Linked DNA regions of Homo sapiens. The protein of the gene in region 1 interacts with the protein of each later gene in a pairwise test. Each region holds a gene or a part of one and is shown in the gene's direction. Other genes may lie near its edges.

Evidence for each region.
Region 2: the proteins of RIMBP3C (region 1) and FARS2 interact in a two-hybrid assay, tested with the Homo sapiens proteins (one large-scale study listed by BioGRID).

What each region holds. Positions count from the first base shown.
Region 1 is NC_000022.11:21,548,385-21,552,762, reverse strand, and holds the start of RIMBP3C (RIMS-binding protein 3C), read left to right. Parts: upstream 1-1,301; 5' UTR 1,302-1,786; coding exon 1,787-4,378. Other genes in the region: UBE2L3 (ubiquitin-conjugating enzyme E2 L3), read right to left, coding at 3,113-3,313.
Region 2 is NC_000006.12:5,547,813-5,551,621, forward strand, and holds part of FARS2 (phenylalanine--tRNA ligase, mitochondrial), read left to right. Parts: intron 1-3,809. UniProt on the Homo sapiens protein: Is responsible for the charging of tRNA(Phe) with phenylalanine in mitochondrial translation.

The sequences.
Region 1 (4,378 bases):
GACAGAGCGAGACTCCATCTCAAAAAAAAAAAAAAAAAAAAAGAACATCTGGAGCCATAATTCCCGATGTTCTTGTTACTTGACACTGCCTAAAGGCATGTTCTGTGGGTTCCGGGGAAACTGATTTGAAAAACTTGAGTGTTGTAAAGGAGGGCCATAAGCTGAGTGAACACAGCAGTTGTGAGAGGTCCCAGGTGCTTCCTGGGGACAGGGAGACACGACAGACCAAGAAGCAAAGGGGCCTCTGATGTGACTTCAATATCAAGGTCTTGTCGGGCACAGTGGCTCATGCCTGTAATCGCAGCACTTTAAGAGGCCGAGGCGGGTGGATCACTTGAGGTCAGAAGTTCAAGACCATCCTGGCCAACATACTGAAACCCTGTCTCTACTAAAAAGTACAAAAAATTAGCTGGGCATGGTGGCTCAAGCCTGTAATCCCAGCTACTTGGGAGGCTGAGGCAGGAGAATCTCTTGAACGTGGAAGGTAGAGGTTGCAATGAGCCAAGATTGCGCCACTGCACTCCAGCCTGGCGACAGAGTGAGGCCCCATCTCAAAAAACAAAATCAATGTCTCGATGCAGACTGCCAGGTATCAGGTGTCCATCCATGTCTCCAAAAAGCCACTTGGCACCAGGAGCAGACAGGAAGGGCAAAGAGGAGCCAGACTGAAGCAGGGCTTCTTAGCTCCCAAGCCACACAGGTGGCCACCAGTCAGAGAGGCAGTGTGTGTGTGTGTGTGTGTGTGTGTGTGTGTGTGTGTGTGTGTGTGTATTTCTTCAGTTCAGTGTGTGTATGTATGTTTCTTCTGCAGCTCAGTGTATGTGTGTATTCCTTCAGCTCAGTATGTGTGTGTGTGTATGTTTCTTCTGCAGCTGTGTGTGTGTGTGTGTGTGTGTTTCTTCTGCAGCTCAGGATGCCTCCAACATTTCTGCTGAAGCCTCACCCTCACTCCTGGCCCATCCTGAGGCCTCTACCTAAGATGCCAATGAGTAGCCCAGACACTGGGGCTCCAGTGTTTGTCACCAGGTGGTACCTGGATGTGGGAGGTAGACAGGCCAGATGGCCAGTTTGGGCAGTGCCCCCATGCCTATCTGGCCCTGGGTCCCTATGCCACCTTGCTGGGGAGGGTCTTTTCGCTTACACCTCCTCTGAGCCGACTCTGCGCAGTAACACAAATGTGTATCAGGCACATCCTTTCCTCAAAAGGTGGATGACCAGTTGGGTGATCAGGGCTGTTAGGGGGCTGAAGGGTCCTGGGGAGTCCAGGTCTAGCCAAGTTGAGGCCTATCCTGCTGCATTTTCCAGCCACCTGACCCAAATACACCACCTGAACCCACGACCAGGTATGCCCACACCCCATGGGTGGCCTTAACACACACACCCTGCCCCTTTCTCCAAGTACAGGAGCAGCAGCCCAGACTTCCCTCGGGGCACCGCGGCCTGCTTGGGACTGCACAGTGCCTGGGAGGGTGCCTGGGGAGGGTCACAAGGGACTTGGTGCTAGAAGCAGGAAAAGTGTAGGGACCGGAAAAGCCCCCGTGCATCCTGGAAGGGACATGGGCCAGTTTGAGCAGGGGTGTGGGAGTCCAGCCCTGGCCTTGCCAGGTGGAGAGGCGCCTGGGCCAGACATCCGCGGCAGGAGGCGGGGGAACATGCCAAGAGGCGGAAGGGGCACGCGGAGACCCCCAGGGGGCGCCGGAAGGGGCGCGCCGGGCGGTCGGCGGCGGCCGTTGGCGAGCTGAGGCCTGCCAGGCGAAGTCTGGAGACCAGCCGGGCCGCGGCCGCAATGGCCAAGGACTCGCCCAGCCCCTTGGGCGCGTCGCCCAAGAAGCCGGGCTGCTCCAGCCCGGCGGCGGCAGTGCTGGAGAACCAGAGGCGGGAGCTGGAGAAGCTACGGGCGGAGCTGGAGGCGGAGCGGGCAGGCTGGCGGGCGGAACGGCGGCGCTTCGCTGCCCGGGAGCGCCAGCTGCGTGAGGAGGCCGAGCGGGAGCGGCGGCAGCTGGCTGACCGTCTGCGCTCCAAGTGGGAGGCACAGCGCAGCCGGGAGTTGCGGCAGCTGCAAGAGGAGATGCAGCGGGAACGCGAGGCCGAGATCCGGCAGCTGCTGCGCTGGAAGGAGGCCGAGCAGCGGCAGCTGCAGCAGCTGCTGCACCGGGAGCGCGATGGCGTGGTGCGCCAAGCCCGGGAGCTGCAGCGCCAGCTGGCCGAGGAGCTGGTGAACCGCGGCCACTGTAGCCGCCCGGGGGCGTCCGAGGTTTCCGCGGCGCAGTGCCGCTGTCGCCTGCAGGAAGTGTTGGCGCAGCTTCGCTGGCAGACTGACGGCGAGCAGGCGGCGCGCATCCGCTATCTGCAGGCGGCGCTGGAGGTGGAGCGCCAGCTCTTCCTCAAGTACATCCTGGCGCACTTCCGCGGGCACCCGGCTTTGTCGGGATCACCGGACCCCCAAGCTGTGCATTCCTTGGAAGAACCGCTGCCCCAGACCTCCAGCGGCTCTTGCCACGCCCCCAAACCCGCCTGCCAACTCGGATCTCTAGACAGCCTGAGTGCTGAAGTCGGTGTGCGCTCCCGCTCGCTAGGCCTGGTGTCCTCTGCGTGCTCCAGCTCCCCAGACGGCCTGCTCTCCACGCACGCCAGCTCCCTTGATTGCTTCGCACCTGCGTGTTCCCGCTCGCTTGACAGCACCCGGAGCCTCCCCAAGGCCTCCAAATCCGAGGAGCGGCCCTCCTCACCAGACACCTCCACCCCTGGCTCCCGGAGGCTCTCGCCGCCACCATCGCCACTCCCGCCGCCACCACCACCGTCAGCCCACAGGAAACTCAGCAACCCGCGGGGAGGAGAAGGCTCTGAGAGCCAGCCCTGCGAAGTCCTGACTCCCTCACCCCCGGGCCTGGGCCACCACGAGCTGATAAAGCTGAACTGGCTGCTGGCCAAGGCGTTGTGGGTGCTGGCGCGCCGCTGTTATACCCTGCAAGAGGAGAACAAGCAGCTGCGGCGTGCAGGCTGCCCCTACCAGGCAGACGAGAAGGTGAAGCGGCTCAAGGTAAAGCGCGCGGAGCTGACCGGGCTCGCGCGGCGCCTAGCTGACCGCGCCCGCGAGCTGCAGGAGACCAACCTCCGGGCCGTGAGCGCGCCTATACCCGGCGAGAGTTGCGCCGGCCTGGAGCTGTGCCAAGTCTTTGCCCGCCAGCGCGCTCGGGACCTGTCGGAGCAGGCGAGCGCGCCGCTGGCCAAGGACAAGCAGATCGAAGAGCTGCGGCAGGAGTGCCACCTCCTGCAGGCGCGTGTCGCCTCGGGTCCCTGCAGCGACCTGCATACTGGAAGGGGCGGCCCCTGCACCCAGTGGCTCAACGTCAGAGACTTAGACCGCCTGCAGCGCGAGTCCCAGCGGGAAGTGCTGCGCCTGCAGAGGCAGTTGATGCTTCAGCAGGGCAACGGTGGCGCTTGGCCCGAGGCGGGCGGCCAGAGCGCAACCTGCGAGGAGGTGCGACGGCAGATGCTGGCGCTGGAGCGCGAGCTGGACCAGCGGCGGCGCGAGTGCCAGGAGCTGGGCACGCAGGCGGCCCCGGCGCGGCGACGTGGCGAGGAGGCCGAGACACAGCTGCAGGCGGCGCTGCTCAAAAACGCCTGGCTGGCGGAGGAGAATGGGCGGCTGCAGGCCAAGACCGACTGGGTGCGGAAGGTGGAGGCTGAGAATAGCGAAGTGCGCGGCCACCTGGGCCGCGCGTGTCAAGAGCGCGATGCCTCCGGCTTGATCGCCGAACAGCTGCTGCAGCAGGCGGCGCGCGGGCAGGACAGGCAGCAGCAGCTGCAACGCGACCCGCAGAAGGCCCTGTGTGACCTCCATCCTTCCTGGAAGGAGATACAGGCGCTCCAGTGTCGGCCTGGTCACCCTCCTGAACAGCCCTGGGAGACCAGTCAAATGCCGGAGTCCCAAGTTAAAGGTAGCAGAAGGCCCAAGTTCCACGCACGGCCTGAAGACTACGCAGTGTCACAGCCCAACAGAGACATACAGGAGAAAAGGGAAGCCTCCCTCGAGGAGAGCCCAGTTGCCCTTGGGGAGTCAGCCAGTGTCCCCCAAGTTTCAGAGACAGTCCCTGCCAGCCAACCTCTGTCCAAGAAAACCAGCTCCCAGTCAAACTCCTCCTCTGAGGGGTCGATGTGGGCCACCGTGCCGTCCTCCCCTACTCTGGACAGGGACACAGCCAGTGAGGTGGATGACCTGGAGCCTGACAGCGTGTCCCTGGCCCTGGAAATGGGGGGCTCGGCGGCTCCTGCTGCCCCCAAGCTCAAGATCTTCATGGCTCAGTATAACTACAACCCATTTGAGGGGCCCAATGATCACCCTGAGGGTGAGCTGCCCCTCACAGCTGGGGACTAC
Region 2 (3,809 bases), on another chromosome or scaffold:
TACTCACGCCCCAGTGGCGACAGCAGCCATCAGTGTCTGTCTACCCTAGAAGGGCTCATCTCTCTCTGGAGTTATACTTATTTATATTTGTGTACAGACCTTTTCAACTGTATTAGTCCATTTTCATGCTGCTGATAAAGATATACCCCAGACTGGGAAGAAAAAGAGGTTTAATTGGACGTACAGTTCCACATGGCTGGGGAGGCCTCAGAATCATGGCGGTGGGCGAAAGGCACTTCTTACATGGCAGCAGCAAGAGAAAATGATGAAGAAGCAAAATCAGAAACCCCTGATAAACCCATCAGATCTTGTGAGACTTAATCACTATCACGAGAATAGCACAGGAAAGACCGGCCCCTGTGATTCCATTACCTCCACCTGAGTTGCTCCCACAACATGTGGGAATTCTGGGAGATACAATTGAAGTTGAGATTTGGGCGGGGACACAGCCAAACCATATCATCAACTTTAAGGACAGGTATGATTTTTATGAGTGTATTTTGTTATTGTTATAGTGAAGCACACTGATTTTGTGTGTGTGCCCATCTGCATCTTGAACCTTTCTATGTATATATGCATATATTTTTGGTTTTACCTTATGAGGACTTTTAAAAACTTCTACTTGAATAATTATCTGTTTTATTTTAGCATCAATTTCCTTGTAGACTAATTTGAAATAAAGCTGTATCTAATTTACAATAAAACCTGGCTAGGGCTGTAACTTTTTCTCATTCTCTTTTTAATATATTGTCAGTTATTTAATCAGCAAACATTTAAAGAACACCAACATCGTGTAGAATGGTGTGCTCAACACCATGGTGTGACAAATAAAGATGAAAAACACAGTTGCCACCAGAATTAAGTGGCTTAAATTCAATTTTAAGTGTACTTACAACAATCTTTTTTTATGAGACACATAGAAATAGACTCTTGATCTCTTGCACTAAATGTCATTTTTTTTCTCCTTTCTGCCTTCAAATTTGAAAGCCAATATATGCATACCTGCACTAATATATAATTTTTATAGTTGTCTTTGTGTAACAAACTTAAGAACTTCTAACGGGGCAATTAGGATTTGTACATTCATATTTAGTATATGTTCATAAAATACTTTGTGAAGTATAGATTATAGATCATACTATTACCTAAGTATTCACTTATAATTAGTATCTATTCTTGTTAGTTTCCTGTTGCTTAGGTAACCAGTTACCACAAATCTAGTAGCTTAAAACAACATGTATTTATTATTTTACAGTTCTAGAGGTCAGAAAACCAAAATCCACCCAACTGGGCTAAAGTTAAGGTGTCAGCAGGGCTGACTCCTTCTGTAGGCTCTTGGGGGAATCCACCTTCTTGACTTTTCTGGCTTTTTTTTTTTTTTAATTATACTTTAAGTTCTAGGGTACATGTGCACAACGTGCAGGTTTGTTACATATGTATACATGTGCCATGTTGGTTTGCTGCACCCATTAACTCGTCATTTACATTAGGTATTTCTCCTAATGTTATCCCTCCCTCTTCCCCCCACTCCACGACAGACCCTGGTGTGTGATGTTCCCTGCCCTGTGTCCAGGTGTTCTCATGGTTCAGTTCCCACCTATGAGTGAGAACATGCGGTATTTGGTTTTCTGTCCTTGTGAACTGTCACCTTTTCCGGCTTTTAAAGGCCATCCTCAGTCCTTGGATCACAGCCATGCATCATGTTGCCTTTTCTCTCTCCTTCATCTTTTGTCACATTGCCTTCTCTTTGACCTTTGCTTCTTTCTTATAAGGATCCTTATGATTGTATCAAGCCTTGCTGGGTAATTCAGGATAATCTTCCCATCTCAAAATACTTCTCTTAAAGTAATCCTTTAATACTTTAATACAAATTAATTCTCTAATACAAAAGGAAATGTAAATTTCCTGTTGAATATAAGGTAATGTATTTCTAGGTTACAGGGATTAGGACGTAGATATCTTTGGGTAGGGTTGGGGGCATTTTTCAGTCTACCAGAGTCTTCCCTTTGACCCCTAAAGATTCACATCTGTCTTTTGTAAAATACATTCAGCCTATCCCAAGGTCCCACAAACTCTGAACCCATTGCAAAATCAACTCAAAATCCAAAATGTCATCTAAATATCATCAGCCCCTAAGTCCCATTTCATCATTTAATTATCTAAAGCTGGTTTATGTGACACTCTGGGTATGATTCATCCTGGGGCAAAATTCCTCCCCACTTTTGCACCTGAAGCGAGGTACCTACTCCCAAAATACAATGAGTAGGATAGGCATTGGAGAATAGTTGTAGACATTTCCATTCAAAAAGGGAGAAAATGAAAGGAGAAGAAAAAGAATCACTGGTTCCAAGCTATTTCAAAATTCAGCCATTAGGTTTCAAGGCCTGGGGATAATTCTCTGTGGCCCTTGGCTTCACCCATTTGACCTGTATTTCTACCCTCTAAAATATCCTTCTTTTTTAAAGTTCTTTTATTTATTTATGAGGCCAGGTCTTGCTCTTTCATCAGGCTGGAGCCCAGTGGTGCCATCACGGCTCACTGCAACCTCCACCTCCCAGGCTTACATCTCAGCCTCCCGAGTAGCTGGTACTACAAGCACATGGTACCACGCCCAGCCAATTTTTTGTGTTTTTAGTAGAGAAGGTGTCTTGCCATGTTGCCCAGGCTGTTCTTCAACTCCTGGGCTCAAGCAGTCTGCCTGCCTTGGCCTCCCACAGTGTCAGGGTTACAGGCATGATGAGCCACTGTGCCTTACCTCCTTTTTTGTTAAGGGTGGCATGTATATGCAGGTGAGTTGTTTTATTACCCTGGCTTTTGCCTGAAGAATTTGGGGAGTCAAATAGCCTTCTTTCTTTCCTTCTCTTTTTGTTCTTTTGTCCCTCTCAATTCCAGCTGACAGTGTTCCTGATGGTAAATCATTCTCAAAAACCTTGTGGCTCTCCCATTTATATCATAGGGATTCATTCCATTACACAAGAGGCTCCTCTGCAGATCTTTCTTGAATAATTCATTGCTATTTCTGGCTTCTGCTGAGACGCCTGAGGGGATCCTTGACTCATATGCTTAATTTCTTCAAAGAGCCCTCTGTTTGACTAAATACCCTGATCCTTCAAAACTTCTGAGGCATTAACAAAGGGTTGTATAGCTGCACTCATGGCTTTCTCTCCAAAGCACTTTTCTTTCAGCAAAACCCCTAACTTTTTGTCTTTTTCAGTATAGATAGGCTAAGAATTTCCCAAATTATCTAATCTTGCTCCTCTTTGCATAGCAGTTCTCTTAATTTGTCTGTTTTCTCCTGCAAGAATAAAGCAGGCTGCATTTTCACTGTTTGCTTGGAAATTTCCTCAGCTAAATATCCAAGTTCATTGTTTACAAGTTTTGCTTTCCACTTCCAATTCATCTAATTCTGCCGCTATGAATGAACAAGGATCCCCTTTCCTCCACCTTCCACTAACATGTTCCTCATTTCCTTGCGAGCCCTCACCAGCAGGGCTTTTGACATCTGTATTGCTACCACCAGTATGTTTATGAATATTTGGATATTCTCAGACAGTATAGGTTTTCTCTACCATGCTCCTCACTTTTTCCTTGCCTGTCACAGTCTATAACATCCATATTTCTACAAGAGTCTCTTTAAGGCAAAATAGCCATTTAATATCATGGTGCTCCAAGTTATCTACTACCCACTGACCAATTCCAAGGCTAATTCCACATTTTTATGTATTTGTTACAAGCAATACCTCACTTCCAGATACAAAAATACGTATTAGTTTCTTGTTGCTGCTATAATAAATTACCACAAACTTAGA